Linked DNA regions of Homo sapiens: region 2 is linked to region 1. Evidence: fine-mapped expression QTL. Tissue or cell type: whole blood. Region 1 holds a variant in brackets; the other region holds the start of a gene. All regions are shown on one strand. Distances are from middle to middle.

Region 1 (8,107 bases):
CACAGAGGGACACACCCAGTGGCTTCGCAGGAACAGGTCCCACAGTCATGCGTGGCTGAGACCAGCTACTTCCCTAGAGTCCTCCCGTGTTGCTGCTCCCAGCTGGAGTGACTTCCTGGGCACCACTGCTGAGTCAGATGTCCTTGTCCTGAAGGACACAGGGTGGGATGGCCCAGCGACAGGTCTTTCTTTTATTTAATAGGAACTGCTCAGGGCTGCACCACCCCAGGAACCTCCTCTCATGTAACCAGAGCAGCAGGACATAGATTCATGTCATAGCAACATAATAACAACATCCAAATGCTTTACAAGTACGGCAGCAACCCTCTATGGCAGATACTGTGACCATCCTCATTTTATACTTGAAAAGACTGAAGCAGAGAAACCTCAGTAAGGGGCCCAAGGTCACACAGCGAATGAAGGTTGGAGCCAGGATTAGAACTCGGGCAATGTGCTCCTGCTACAACATGGGGGGCCGGGGCGGGGCTCTGTATGCTTCAGGACTTCAAAGTGGCCAAGAGAGAGCCAGACCTGGGCCTGTGCCCCGCTCCGCCACTAACGCTTTTACTTTCTGAGACTCTGCATCTTCATCTGGGAGACAGGATATTTATAGGGTTGCTGGGTGGATTTAATGAGACAAAGCAGGTTTTCCTAAAGTATGTTTTGTCAAATACTAGCTCCATGGGAGTTGAACAGGTATTTTTTGAGAAAAATAAAATGGAGAGCTGTGGGGGGAATTCTTCAGTTAAATACGTTTGGGAACTATGTAGGTAAAGTGAACCAGCCTTCTCCACCACAGGAGTTACCAAAGCCTTGATTAGGCCAATGTGTTAGAAATTTCCAAGAAAGAAAGATAGTATGCAGTAGTCCCCAAACTTGTGCGTCCACAGAAACCTTTTTCCACAAAGCACCTTGAGGGTTCAGTGATCTGCCAAAAATACTCTGAATAATACTGCAATGATGTGCATAGGATGCCTGGCCCAGAGGAAGCCACCTCTAAGTGGTATCTGTAGTTGCCGCTGCTTGGGTGATTGCTCTACTTTACGTAGGTGGAACAGAGTTGGCAAGACCGGGGGCTGGAGAGACTCACCTGGCGGACGGCGCCTACCACCTCAGCTCGGCTGGAGAGGCGGGCAGCCAGGCGGTGCAGGACAGCGATGTCCTCCAGCAACTTCTGGTAGGTTTCCCGGTGCTCACAGTGGTGCCAGAGTGAAGCTGAGGACTGAACAGGAGTAGGAGCATCACCTGGGGTCCTCAAATAATGTTATGGACTAAATCAGCAGTCCCCAACCTTTTCGGCCTCAGGGACTGGTTTGGAAGACAATTTTTCCACAAACCTGGTGGGGGCGATGGTTTGGGGATGAAACTCTTCCACCTCTGATCATTAGATTCTTATAAGGAGGGTACAACCTAGATCCTTCGCATGCACAGTTTACAATAGGGTTCGTGACCCTATGGGAATCGAATGCTGCTGCTGATCTGACAGGCGGCGGAGCTCAGGAGGTCATGCTCTCAGGCAGCTCACCTCCTACTGTGCAGCCTGGTTCCTAACAGGCCATGGTTTGGTACCGGTTTGCGGCCTGGCCCAGGGGATGCGGACCACTGGGCTAAATGTCTGTGCCCCCCACAAAGTCATCTGCTGACTTTTGGGGGGACATATCCTAACTCCTCAATGTGATAGTGAAGTGGGGCCTGGGCGAGGTGATTAGGTGAGGAGAGTGGAGCCCCACGAATGGAATTAGTGCTCTTATAAAAGGGACCCCAGAGAGTTCTGTTCTCTTTCCACCATGTAAGATATAATGGAAAGGTGGTAGTCTGCAAGCCAGAGATGGCCCTCACCAGAACCCGACCATGCTGGTGCCCTGATCTTGGCCTTCCAGCCTCCAGAACTATGAGAAATAAATGTTTGCCATTTAAGCCACCCAGTCTAAGGCCCTTTGTTACAGCAATTCAAACTGACTAAGACACACACCAAGCCTAGACTCAGCTCTCATGAAAGCAGCTCTGGGCCCCATCCAGGCTGAGAGAAGTGGCCTCTGCAGGGCCTGGGCCACAGTTTCTTCTGGTGCTTGGAGAAGCCCAATGTGAACACGCTATCCCTGGCGCCTGAAAGTAGGAGTCACACCCAGGCCACCCTGCCCCCTTCTGAGAAGCTCCCAAGGCTTTGGAGGACCTGTCCACAGCCCTGAGGGAACCAGGCCTTTGGGATCTCTGCCTCAGTTCCCCCCAACTCTCTGAGGAACACTGTCAGAGTCTTGGCTCAATTTTTCACTTCAGGAGACTATACTTGGTACCTGAGAGAAGCATGACACCCTGTATGGCCCTTGGGGACAGTCTCTGCTCCAGGGATTCCTCACATCAGGCTCCACAATTACCGTAATGGAAGCTTTGAAGTTTTCCAGTTCTTTCTCAGTGTTCTCCTCTGTCAGGTTGCGTTCCCTTTCAGCCTGGTTAATTCTAGATTCCAGAGTGTAGCTGTCATTTCTAAAGGCCAAGGACAGTTGCACAAACACGTTCTGTTGGGAACAAGGGTGTGAGAGAGGTGCTGGGAGGAGTTACTGCAGAGGACAAGGCTGCAGCTGTGCTCCTTGCACGAGCGTTTTGCAACGGCCCCTGGAACAGCCGCCAAAGCACCAAAGCAGCCATGTGCAAGGGAAACGCTCACTTCACAGGAAACCACAAAAAAGATGGTAAAGCAGGGACCAAGGTCCACGCTAGGCCCTTCCCAGAACCGGAGGTCCAAATGTATTCTACCAAAAAATAAGAAGAGAATAACACTTTGCTTTTTCCTGAATTTTAAGAAAATAACATCCTGTATCTGGGTTTAGATAAACTCAGGCCAGTACAGCTAATTGTGTAAGCATCTGGATTTATGCTGGGATTTATTGCATGAGGGGTTTTGGAGATTTTGCAGGAAAATACTGTATTGAAAGAAACTCCATGTGAGATTTAAGCATTGTTGACGTAAAGCAAACTTCAATCAGCATCTAGCCCGAGTATTCCAAATCCTGTATTGATAGAAGCTTTAAGTAGCTGCCAGGAGATTAAATAAGGCCAGGTATGATTCTGTTCGGTTAAGCTTTCTGGAATAAATAAATGTTTCATGCTAAAATTGCAGCCTGCATGAACAGACTTTGAAAAGATAATATTGGTCATACATGGAATTCCCAGAACAGTAGGAAACTACTAGGGAGAAGAAATAGACAGATGGACCTCACTCAGGAAGGAAGCAATGGTCTTCAATTTTACAGCCATCATCTGCCCTGAGTGGTAGCAGATTTATACCCTGCAGGGTTAGTAACCACAGGGGCTTCTGAAGTTCATGTAACATGGCCCATGGAAGGCAGTCATCTCCAGAAGAATTGAAGGTACAGAATTGACCCAATGATGATGATGAAGGCAATATTGAAAACTACTCCTTATTGAGCATCTACTATATGCCAGCACTGCTTTTCATTCTACAAATTCATGTAATCTCACAATAACCCTCTGGGGTGGGAACTGTTATACCTGTTTATGGGTAAAGAGGCCAAGACCAGAACGGTCATTAACTTGTTCAAGGTGACACGGAGTAACGGAGCCAGGATTTAACCTCAGACTGTCTGATTTGAAAGCCTGTTTTATTTCCACCATGCCGAGAGCTGTGTCCATATACATCTGCGGTCAGCATTTGGACATTAAACAAACCGCCCATGGCCCATCTTCACAAATGTCAGTGGGTAGGCTTAGAGCTCATAGCCCAGTGATAGAAATTTTCTGCCTTACCCGGCCTTGGTCAAGTCTATGAATAATGCTCAATGCTTAATTTTCTATACCTTGATTATCCCCTTAACAGCAGTGTGACACAATGAGTTCTGAATTCAGTGAGAACACTTGGATCTAGGTCTTGGTTTTGCCAACTACAGTATCTAGAAACTTGGTGTGGTTATTTACTCACTCAGTTTTCTCCTTTGTGCTGATTCCTGCTCCACCTGCTTTTCAGAGCTGCTGGTTAGGATCAGCTGAAAGGATGGCTATGCGTGTGTTATAGACTGCAAGTGCAATGCCTGTGTGCAAGTTATAGATACTACCTGTGGTAGATACTTCATACTGTCTGTCTTCCTCTGCTTATCTGGTCCACATCAGCAGTTCTCA[T/C]TGTCTCACCTCTGATAAGTTCTCTTTGTCCGCTACAGAATGAAATGCAGATTCCCCTCAGCTCACTCACAACCCCGCTGGGACAAGGAGGCCCCAGTGAGGAAACCGGAAGGCTGGATTGCTGACAGCACAGCTTCCCGGCTCCGCTGAGCTGGCATTCTTGTAGCTGAAACCCTGAGGAGGCCAGCCCCCTTTCCCACTAAACTAAAGCTTAGAACTTGAAATCTGACCATTTTTCAGTAATTTTGAAATAAATTTGATTCAATTCTGCAGCCTCCCAGCTGGTTTTGTGTATCTAAGTCGTACATTTAAAGAATATAAACAATCCTTACAGGAATGTAAAATTTCCAACTACCTTCTCCCTTTTGCCCAAATTTGTCAAAATCTTCCATGAACGGACGTGGGAATGGGGATCTCATGGTTCAAGAGGGCTGGTCATGAATGTTCACATTACCCCACAGTCACTCTTTCTCATTTTTGTCTAAAAATGTCAGAGCTAGAGTCTGGAGGAAGAAATGTTTTGAATAAGCCCAGTCAAGCACGGGCACTAAATTTCATAACACACTTGAGTCACTTACCTCAACTTCCTTTTCAGTGAGTGGAGGGGCACTGTGAAAAAGAAAACACACAATTGAACTGTGTGCAACCTAGTCAATAGACCCAAAGGTGACTCTGAATGACCAGCAGACCATGTGTTTCCAGGGGTGGAGTAAGCTGTGTTGGTGAGAAGGAAAAGATGCAATGTCCCCTTGCCTGTGCTCTGTCACCTGTGAGATACTGACTCTTACGGCACCATGACTATCTCTGTGACTTTGGACAAGTTATTTAATCTCTCTAAGCCCCAGCGTGCTCATCTGCAAAATGGGAATCATATCACCTACCTTGCAGAGGTATTATAAGCACTATATGTACTCATGTATGTATGTGTATGTGTTTGTATGCATAAATATATGGCATCCACACTCAGTGGGCTCTCGGGAAATGTGACCTTGAACTCATAGCCTTGCTGTGAGAAATAAGAAAATGCATGTGATAAGGACTTTATAACTCATACACATCTAAGTTGCCATTATAATTGTTCTGGGGATATCCACCCAGGTCTGCAAAGCCTCACCCTCCTCTGTCTCTGAGGGCTGTGACAAAGGTGCATGCGGGCCAGAGAATAAATGGTAGGAGAGAGTGACCAGGGTTCTTCTCCACAGCAAGAACTTCTGATGGCTAGAATCACAGAGTGGCAAGAAAGCCCCAGCCGACACAGAGGCATCCTTTTGAGCAGCTCCTCGTCTGTGGCGTTCCCACAGCCAGGGCTCTCCAGCTATAGGCAGTCCCTGCATCTGCATGTCCACTCGATGCTGCTGTGGCTGCTGCTCTTGCTGGTAACTAAAGCTGGCCCCATCTGAAGTCCACACAATGTAAATAATGCACAGGCCCTTTCCTGTGCTGGGGCGGGGAGGCCTGGGAGGGGTCCTACCAGCGTCACAGAACTTGGCAACAGAGCATGCCATCAATAAGCTTCTCAGGAAACACAGCTTCCTCTCTTGAACGGGTGTGAAGGGACCCCAAGAGCAAAGGTAGGGGTCAGCCATCTCTGCAGGGGGCTGGTTCTCACCCCTAGGGAATGATATGAGTGCCTTCCTGTCAGGATGAGAAGACCCCATGGCCATGAAGTCAGCGGAGTCCAGAACACGGGACAAACAGCTGCAGGGATGTTTGACACTTACAGTCCTTGTCACAACCCCACCCATCAGGCCCTTGCCTTAACTGTCATCTACAGCATACACATATGATTTAAATGATTTGGCAAAACTTGCCAAGTTTGTTTCTGACTCCTGGGTTTGTTGGGATATTATGTGAAATGCACATATTTTCATAAATTATAAACCAAACATTTTTCTATTTCAATGACTCACATTCTGCTTTTTTGCTGTAGAACACACCCACCTTATTTTTATTTTATTTATTTATTTTTGGGGACAGGGTCTCGCTCTGCTGCCCAGGCTGGAGTGCAGTGGCAGGATCACTGCAGAGGTGGCTTACTACAGCCTTGAACTCCTGGGTTCAAGCAATCCTCCTGCCTCAGCCACCAGAGTAGCTGGGACTATGGGTGCATGCCACTATACCTGGCTAATTTTTTATTTTTATTTTTTGTAGAAACAGAGTTTCACTCTGTTGTCCAGGCTGGTCTTAAACTCTTGGCCTCAAGTGATCCTCTTGCCTTGAGCCTACAAAGTGCTAGGATTACAGGTGTATGAGCCACCACACCCAGTTAGAACATACCCACCTTAAAAAAAAAGTGGGGGTCTGGGGGGAAACTCTGAGGACTCAGAGAAGTATGATTTAGGCAGAGAAGCCACATGGTATGTCTGGTGTCTGATGCAGATAACTGTGCCTTACAAATGGGCATAGGTACCCGGGGGCAGAGCTGTGAGCCTCTAAAAGGACACAGCATCTTTTTTAAGTGACTATTTGTATATCTTCTCTGAAGAAATGTCTATTTAAATCCTTTCCCCATTTTGAAAAATTGGTTATTTATCTTTTTATTGAGTGTAAGCCTTCTTTATATGCTCTAGAAACAAGTTCCTTTTCAGATAAGTGATTTGCAAATATTTCATTCTGTGGGTTGCCTTTCACTTTCTTGACACTGTTTGCAGCACAGAAGTTTTTATTTTGAGGAAGTACTATTTATTTTTAAAATCTTGTCTCTTGTGTTTTTGGTGCCATATCTAAAAAACCCAAAGACATGAAGATTTACTTATATTTTTTCTTTGAAGAGTCTTATAGTGTTCTCTCTGACATTTAGGTCTATGATCCATTATGAGTTAATTTGTGTGTTTTGTGTGAGGTAGGGGTCCAACTTCACTCTTTTGTATGTGGCTATCCAGTTGTCCCAGCACCGTTTGTTAAAATTACAATTTTTTTCCTCTGTAAATCTTACCAAAACCCTTGCATGAGTGGCTTTTTGTCATTTGTTATTTGCACATCTCAAATTATTACTTTATCACAGAGGCCTTTCCTTGACCTCCTACCCAATGCCCCACTCTCATGTCATTCTCTAGATGTGCCCTATTTTATGGTCTTTCTACCAACTTTACTCTTTCAAATCATTCATTTGGTTACTTAAATGTTATTTGTGCTTTGGGAGGCCGAGGTAGAAGGATCACTTGAGGCCAGGAGTTCAAGATTATCTTGGGCAACATAGCAAGACCCTATCTCTACAAAAAAATATTTGAAAACTTAACTAGTCATGGGTAAATGGTGTATCTGGGATTGAAACCCATGTCTCCTGGCTCAAAGCCCATTCTCTGCTGCCATGAGCTTCTGGTGACCCTTATGCCTTCATGAACTGTGCTCACCTAAGAACCCCACCTGGCCTTTGAGTTGAAAACACCCAGCCTGGCCTTTCATTATTCTTTTTGTTTCGAATGCATTATCCCTATCTAGACAATTGGACTTTGGCCCTTCTGGGTTCAAGAATTAAGACTGGTGTTCCTCTGTGTCCCACCTAGAATCCAACACAGGGGCCACTCGGTACAGGGCCTTCTGTAACCCACATCCTGATTTTACCTTCCAGGGAGACTCCTGTGGACCCGCAGTTTGCGCAGCAGCACATCAGAAATATTAGGCATGACATCTAAGCCACTCTTTGACTCTTCTTCCTCAATAGCTGGGGAGAGTTCAGAAGGAAGCCCTGAAAAAAAAGTGCTTACTTATAAAATGTCTCTTTGAAATCACAGTAGTACTGTTGGCAGCTAGCTTCAGGAGCTTTGACATTTATAAGTATCTAGTTCTATGTTAAGGGCTTTTTAATTGTTATCTTACATTATTCTCACAATGAGCTAGAACTTAGTCATCCCATTTCACATGTAGATAAGCCAAGGCTCAGCAAGGTTAAGTCACTTGCTCAAGATTACAGAACTAGCAAATGACATGGCCAGACCTCAAGGTCTACCTGCTTCAAATGTTATGTTCTTCC
Region 2 (8,107 bases), 37 kb before region 1:
AGACTTGGGCTTAGATCTAGCATATGTCATTTGCTAGCTCTGTGACCTTAGCCTAGATACTTCATCTCTTTAATCTTCAGCTCTTTGAGCCTCCTTGTTTATAAATTCAAGGGAGTAACAGTGTCTACTGAATAGGGTAGTGAAAGTTAAGTGAGTAAATTCTAATACAAATGTTTAGCATAGTGCCTGCCACATGGTAGGTGCTTAATAAATCCACATAACATTATCATTATCGTTAAAGCATTTTGGTTTTGGTCTGCTAATGATTGATTACCCCACAGAAGCTGAGGCTGTTGAATAGGTAAGATATGAATAATATTTCTACTCAAAATCTAATGGATTTGGGAATTCTTTTGAACCCTTTTCTCTGGGTTCTGGGATGTACAGACCTGTATAAAATTGCCAAGTTGTATTGTATTCAAATACATTATTCCTACTGGGCTTCATCCACAAACATCCATAAAAGGGCATTTAAATCTCTCAAGTAATTGCTTGTACGCAGCTCTGTGTATTGGATGCTCAGTCAAATGCTTTGACCACTTCCTAGGTTGATATCTAATGGAAGTTTCTTTTTGAAAACATGGAAGGAGCATTTCTAAGTCCTCCATATGAACCTTGCTGTGGTGGCAGATTAGGAGCACACACTCAATTATGCCTGATTCTAAAACCCCAGTTCCTCTTTTTTCCTTCTTCTTTCCCAAGAGATGGATCTTGCTATGTTGCCCAGGCTGGTCGTAAATTCCTGGGCTCAAGCAATCCTCCCACCTCAGCCTCCCTGAGTAGCTGGAACTACAGGTGTGCACCAGTATGGCCAAGCAAGAACCCCAGTTCTTTTTTTTTTTTTGAGACGGAGTTTCACTCTTGTTGCCCAGGCTGGAGTGCAATAGCGTGATCTCGGCTCACTGTAACCTCCACCTCCTGGGTTCAAGCGATTCTCCTGCCTCATTCTCCCAAGTAGCTGGGATTACAGGCATGTGCCACCAAACCTGGCTAATTTTGTACTTTTAGTAGAGACAGGGTTTCTCCATGTTGGTCAGGTTGGTCTTGAACTGCCGACCTCAGGTGATCCACCCACCTTGGCTTCCCAAAGTGCTGGGATTACAGGCGTGAGCCACTGTGCCTGGCCCTTTTTTTTTTCTTTTTTGAGACAGAGTCTCGTTCTGTCACCCAGGCTGCAGTGCAGTGGCGTGATCCATGCTCACTGCAACCTCTGCCTCCCGGGTCCAAGCAACTCTTGTGCTTCAGCCTCCTGACTAGCTGGGACTACAGACGCGAGACACCATGCCCAGCTAATTTTTGTATTTTTTGTAGAGATGGGGTTTCACCATGTTGGCCAGGCTGGTCTCAAACTCCTGACCTCAGGTGATCCACCCACCTCGGCCTCCTAAAGTGCTGAGATTACAGTCATGAACCACCGTGCCCAACCCGGCCCCCAGTTCTTAACAATGACACTGTTTTACCTTTCACAGTGCTATAAGGAAATGAACACACACAGACACACACACACCCCTAGGCTGAACTCCCTGAACACACCGTTTGCTCTGAAATTTGGCTCTTTTAGCTCATGAGCTTGCTATTGCTCAGGTCTCTTATAGCTACTTCTTTGGGAATGGATTGCAGAGGTTTATTTGTCACATTATCAATTGGTCTTACTACCCTCTCATCATATGTCATTTGTACTCTAAATACTATTATTTAGAGGAGTGATAGACTTATTCTAGGTGGATAGACTTAGCTTTGAATATTTTTTCTATTGTTAACTGGCTGTTGCGACATCAGGCAAGTCAGCATTCTCATCTGAAAATGGGGATGGATATATCTTCTTCACATGATTTTTATCAGAATTAAATTAGATAACTTGTACCTAGCAGAGGCGGGGCCCAGTAGGAAGTCAACAACATTAGTCATTTTATGCTTTCCTATTTCATTTAGGGATCAAAAGAGGGAGCTGGAATTTAAGGGAGTACTCCAGTAACTCCTTCCTTAAGATTTCTCAGGAAACAGCAAACATAGTAGAAATAGTGTATGCTTAGGAGTTAGATATAAGGATGTGGAATCAGATAATAGCATATGCTTAGGAATCAGATAGGGCTGAATTCAAACCCAATATTTATTATGTACTGCCTGCATGACATTGGGCAAGTCACTTCACCTATAAACTGTCTTTTTGAGAGGATTAAATGAAATTGTATATACACACCTAGCTCTGGATCACTATATACTTGGCCCTCAAATATAGTTCCCACCCCTATTCACTTACCTTCATCAACTACTTTATTCTGCAGTCATGGTTATGCTGACTTTTGGTTGTTTCCAAAAATGTAATTTCCCTAGAAAATCTTTTTCCCTTGCTGAGGATAGTCCAGAGTGTGATGGAGTCATTTTCAAAAAACAGTGTCCAATAGTTTGAATAATGGCAGCATTGTGGGGAAAAATAGTCTCCCCAGAGGATTTCAAAGAGGACCAAACTTATTTGAAAGTAACAGTATTTTAAAAAACTAATCATATAACTCTGACCTTTCTTATAAAATGTAATGCAACAACATATAAATCAACTCTGAATGTCTGTTTCTAGCATATTTTATATCTCAGGTCATCTTCCAGCATAGGAACACACATTTTCCTATTAAAGTGCTCAGATTTTCATTTGCCCAGAGCTGCAATGAGTGATTTGTGGTTACAATTTTTTTGCCTACAGTGCAAAATGAGGTTTCCATTTAGGCATCTCAAAAGCCCAGCGATCACTTTAAGTCATTCCTTTAGTAGACAGCCGATGGCTTAATTTTCAAACTTATATTTTTACAGATTTTTTTCAGCTAATTTGCTATTTACTGAATATTTTTTTAAAACATTGCACCTCATTCATGGTATGATAAAATCAAAATTAAAATAATTATGCTAACACTCCCAAAAAACATAAAAACAGGCCAATTTTAGTGAAAGTTACCCATTATTCCCAAGCTTAGTGATTGCTTTAAATTTTTTACAATCATGGTTTGCGTCTTCAATGAAATACTTAAAAAAAAATTATTACTTCTGGATGCAGTGGCTCATGCCTGCAATCCCAGTACTTTGGTAGGCTGAGGCAGGACGATCACTTGAAGCCAGGAGTTCAAGACCAGGCTGGGCAACAAAGCGAGATCCCATTGCTACAAAAAATTTAAATACCACCCATACAAAAAAGAGTAAAAATCAAATGGTTTCTCTTCAGTGTTTTATTTCAAAATGTCCTCATTAAAAATATTCCATAACCAAAAGTAAAAGTCCAGATGATACAAACGTAAATGTCAATCATTTTGGTGAAGTTGACAATATGGTGGTACATTTTTGGCAGAGCAGTACCACCAATTAGACCTGCTGTTGACACTGAGGGTCACCCTCATTCCCAGAAATCCATAGTCAACAGCTTAGGAGGCTTAGGACTGAAGCCTTGCTTCAGTTTGGAAATCTGGTGAGAAACCTACCTTCTGCACGCAAAGAGCCTTGGACCAGGAGCCTCGTGGTCCAGATGGAAGTGAGAAGCAACACCAGGCTGAAGCACCTGGCCATCGTGCCTACCCCTTCAGAGCCAGGGAAACACCTCAGATGGCCACTGGTGATATGAGAGGCAGATGCTCAATAACTAGTCCGGATGGAGAGTTCTGGAACTATGTTGAGGCTCACACTCACTGCTCCACTTCATAACCGAGACATCCGGATTTCCCTGCTTTCAAGCTTCTGACTTGTCAAGGTCACTGGGGGAAATGAATGACGTCCCTTGAACGCCCAGGCTGTACTTTGTGGATGGCCTTCTGGAAAATTTAGCTAATGCTGACTCAGAAAACACACAAATGAGGAAGGCAGATAGCACAGTGTGAACTGCTAAAGGTTCTCCCAATTCCCATATTCCCTGCTGTTCCTCCTCCCCCAGCAGCTCAGTTCTCACACCATTCACTGTTACTGCCTGTGGAGTCCATCGTTTATGTACTCCTAGAAACATCTCTGTCCCTAAAGGAGACTGAGCATAGGTTGTGCCTCTTTTCCTCCCGCAATCAGTGATTTTTCCACCCAGCTGTTCGGCCTTGTGATCTGCAGGGTATGATGCTGAAGCTCATGAAAGTAAATGTCCACTTAAATACTGAGTCTAGAACCTTCTGCCTTCCTTTGAGTCTCCTTTTACACATTTGAAATCTCTACACCACTACAGGTGATTCCTTTTTCAAAGAAACCAGGCACATATAAACATTCACATTTACATAACACAAGTAGGAGGGCAATTTACAAAATTAAACATTTTACACTTTCCCCAAGGATTTTTAACTTTACAATAGTAATCACCACAGGGGTCTTTTATGAAATAACTTTCTCTTAATAACTCCTTTCATATTCTGGTAGGCCAGAATTCAAGTCAGACTCCACCTTTGTTGTTCGATGAACATGAGGTTTATCTGTGCTGTGTACCAGCAGAGTGTATTCTATGTTTTTCCAGCCGGATTTTCAGTGGTTTTTGCTTCATGGTAATTATGGAGTTCTGGCTTGTAAGCAATGTCTTGGGCAAAGGTTTATGAGATTTTTCCAAAATGAATGTCTTTTATAGGAAAAGTATATGGATAACGAATTCTTTTTTATATAAGTGGTACTGGTCATAAAGTTAGATATTTGTGTGAAAAATATCAATAACAAAAAGAGAATCTGCTCTAAACAAATGCAGGGAACTTCTAAAAGACCAGGGTAACAGCCCTTACACATCTCCAATACCGACCTCATGATCTGGGTGAGCACAAGCCCCAGTTTCTCAGAAACATGCATGACTCTATCATCACAGCACCAGGGAGGCAGACAGGCAGAGTCCTGGCCTCTTCATGATTATTCTTAAAGCCTAACACCATGCCCGAAAGAGAGCTAGCTTTCTAGCATTTGTTCACTTATTGCAAAAAGAACGAAGGAAGACAGGAAGGGGAAGAATGAATCAGGGAAGGCAAGGCTTTGTGTCAAGGAGGAGAATGAGAGTCACAGTGATCACCAGCCATAGAATTTCTGGAATACCAATGAAGAGGCCTTAGAAAGGTCGCTGTGCCAGCTTTCTATTGCTGTCCAACAAATTACCATAGACTTAGCGGCTTAAACAGTACTCATTTATCATTTAACAGCTTCTATATGTCAGAGGTCTGAGTGGGCTCAGTTGGGTCCTCTGCCCTGGGTCTCACGAAACTGACATTAAGGTGCTGGCTGGGCTGGGCTCTTACCCAGAGGCTCTGGGGAAGAATCCACTTCGAAGCACATTTGGGTTGTTGGCAGAATTCATTTCTTTGAGGTTGTGGGAATGAGGTCCCTGTTTCCTTGCAGGGTGTCAGCCAGGGACCATTCTCTTCTCCTAGAGCCCTTCCATTTTCAAAGCAGCAATGACACACTGAGTCCTTCTCATACTTCTAGTCTCTCTTTCACTTCTACAGTTAGCCAGAGAAAGTTCTCTGCTCTTTTAAGAGACACGGTCTTGCTCTGTTGGCTGGAGCGCAGTGGCGCCATCGTGACTCACTGCAGCATCTACCTCCTGGGCTCAAGCAGAGCTCTCTACTTTTTTTTTTTTTTTTTTTTTTTTTGAGACAGAGTCTCACTCTGTTGCCCAGGCTGGAGTGCAGTGGCGTGATCTCAGCTCACTGCAAGCTCTGCCTCCTGGGTTCATGCCATTCCTTGCCTCAGCCTCCCGAGTATCTGGGACTACAGGCGCCCGCCACCACACCCAGCTAATTTTTTGTATTTTTGGTAGAGGCAGGGTTTCACTGTGTTAGCCAGGATGGTCTCGATCTCCTGACCTCATGATCCGCCCGCCTCAGCCTCCCAAATGCTGGGATTACAGGCGTGAGCCACCGCGCCCGGCGAGCTGTCTGCTTTTAAGGGCTCATGGGCCCACCTGGATAACCTCCCTATCTTAAGGTCAACTGTACCATCTAATGTAACACAACAAAGCTCCATACCCCTGGAGCTCCTATTCAAAGGCTCCAGGGATTAGGGTGGGACATCTTTGGAGGGCTATTCTAGAAATTCTGCCTTCCACAGTCACTTAACCTTGATTTGATTCTGATCTGCTTTCTGAGAGAAACTTCCACATCCACTGTTTTCTGCGGCCCTTTGCATCCCTCTGGGAGATTCATTTGCATATAATCTTGCTTGTCCACATTTGAAGTGGATATTAGGGAGTATGCCTTCCTTGGGAATAGCACAGCTTTTGCAGTCTGCTTCCTGCCGGCATAAGCTAAGATCCCAAAAGTTTTCTTAATTTTAAAAAAATTTTATTTTTAATCAATACATAATTATACACATGTACATTTTGATGTTTCCATACAAACAAGATGTAGTGATCAGATCAGGCTAATTAGCATATCCATCATCTGAAACATTTATCCTTTGTGTTGGGGGTGTTCAATATCTTCTCTTCCAGCTATTTGAAAATATGTTATTGTTATCTATAGTCATCCTATAGTGCCATAAAACACTATAACTTGTTCCTCCTAATTTTATGTCCTTTAACAAATCTGTCTTTTCCTCCTCTCTTCCCTTTCCAGCCACTAGTATCCTCTATTCTGTTTTTTACTTCCATGAGATCTTTTGTTAGCTTCCATGAATTAGAACATGTGGTGTTAACTTTCTGTTCATGGCTTATTTTACTTCACATAATGACCTCCATTTCCATCTATGTTGCTGTGAATGCCAGGATTTCATTTTTTACGGCTGAATACTATTCCGTTGTGTATGTACACCATGTTTTCTTTATCCACTCATCTGTTGCTGGACACATTTTAATACCATATCTTGGCGATTGTGAATACTGCTGCAATAAACATGAGGGTGCAGGTATCTCTCTGATATATTTTCTTTCCTCCTCAAAGCTGTTTCCTCACCTGAACAATGAAAGGGGTTTTTAGTCCTGGCTTGTGTTTCTTTGTAAATTCCCTCACAAAGTTAGATTTCTGCTTCCATGTGCCAATAATCATACCCCAAATCCTTTCCCAGTCATAATTCTCAAGAAGTATTTCCTGTTTCTCAGCACCATACCCCTCAAATTTAGTGGTGAATACACTAAGTTCATTTGAACTCACAAAGGGCCACATCCTTAATCTAGCCTTTGCCATAAGGCTGAGTCGATCTGTTCAACTGAGAAATTTTATTGGCTCCCACTCAAAGCTCTTTTTAGTCTGTCTGGGATTTAGAAGTGGTCAGGTTTTCTCACCCTTCAATCTTTCACATTTCTGAATACTCTATATTCTTTTTCATTTTTGCTCCCACATAGCCAATTATTTCTCCTGCCATACCTTGCCAAAGGCAGCCAAGAGAAGTTTCCATACCCCAACGCTGATTCTTTCCACCACTTATAAATAGGCTAACCATGAGATGCTTTCCAAGTTATCACAGGTAAGACTTTACTATCTTACCATCTTTCTAGCAGTTTTGTTTCTTGCCATGTAACTGGTAAGCTAGAACCTCATATTTTGGAATTTTGCTATTAAAGTACACAATTTCTGGTTCAAATGTATGCATTAGGGTAGGCTAACTGCTATAAACATCCTGGAATCTCTGTGGCTTAATATACTAAAATCTTATTTCTTATTCATGTCACAGTTCAATACTGGGAGTGCTCATTCAAAGACCCAGCTTCCGTCTAGTGGTTCTGCCATTTTCTCGGGTCTCAGTGTTCTCATCTGAATCCTCTGGCTTTGGTAGGCAGAGAAGGGAGTAAAAAAAGGTGTGAAGTATTGGGCAGGAGAGTTTATTTTTAGGGAACTAGATTTGGAAAGTCCACATTCCCCTGCAGCTAGCTGTAAGAAAGACAAAAATAGTTCAGCTGTGGAAATCAGGTTGGTTAAAAACTCAGCAGACTCAATCACAGCAAACTGTGTTAATTAAAAAAATCATAGACCAGGAAGATACAGGAAACCAGGATCAGGAATGGGGAAGGGAAGAGGAGGAACTGATCCAGCCCCTGTGAGGTAGCCCATAGTATAACGACCAAGGGTTGGGGACCTCTGACTTGGTTCTGGAATGCACTAATATATCCAAAGGCATCTAATTCTGGGTTGGGGTAAGACTGTAATTCAACTCCATAAAATGAGGAGGCATTTGGCTGCTGCCA

The links. PIP is the estimated chance that this variant, and not a neighbour inherited with it, causes the effect.
Region 2: it holds the start of LYVE1, and the variant in region 1 is fine-mapped to the expression of LYVE1 in whole blood (TOPMed, PIP above 0.99).

Annotation. Positions count from the first base shown.
Region 1 is chr11:10,602,030-10,610,136 of GRCh38, forward strand. IRAG1 (inositol 1,4,5-triphosphate receptor associated 1) reads right to left here. Exons shown (of 21, transcript NM_130385.4): 11 at 7,699-7,822; 12 at 4,713-4,743; 13 at 2,376-2,516; 14 at 1,091-1,222. Among named protein-coding and RNA genes, the nearest start is that of LYVE1, 37 kb to the left of the region's middle. RefSeq lists enhancers at 4,093-4,387, 4,113-4,407. The variant T/C (reference allele first, on the strand shown) is at 4,135.
Region 2 is chr11:10,564,984-10,573,090 of GRCh38, forward strand. LYVE1 (lymphatic vessel endothelial hyaluronan receptor 1) reads right to left here and starts at 3,682. Exons shown (of 6, transcript NM_006691.4): 1 at 3,465-3,682. The coding sequence starts at 3,549. All of the region lies in intron 1 of IRAG1-AS1 (IRAG1 antisense RNA 1), which reads left to right.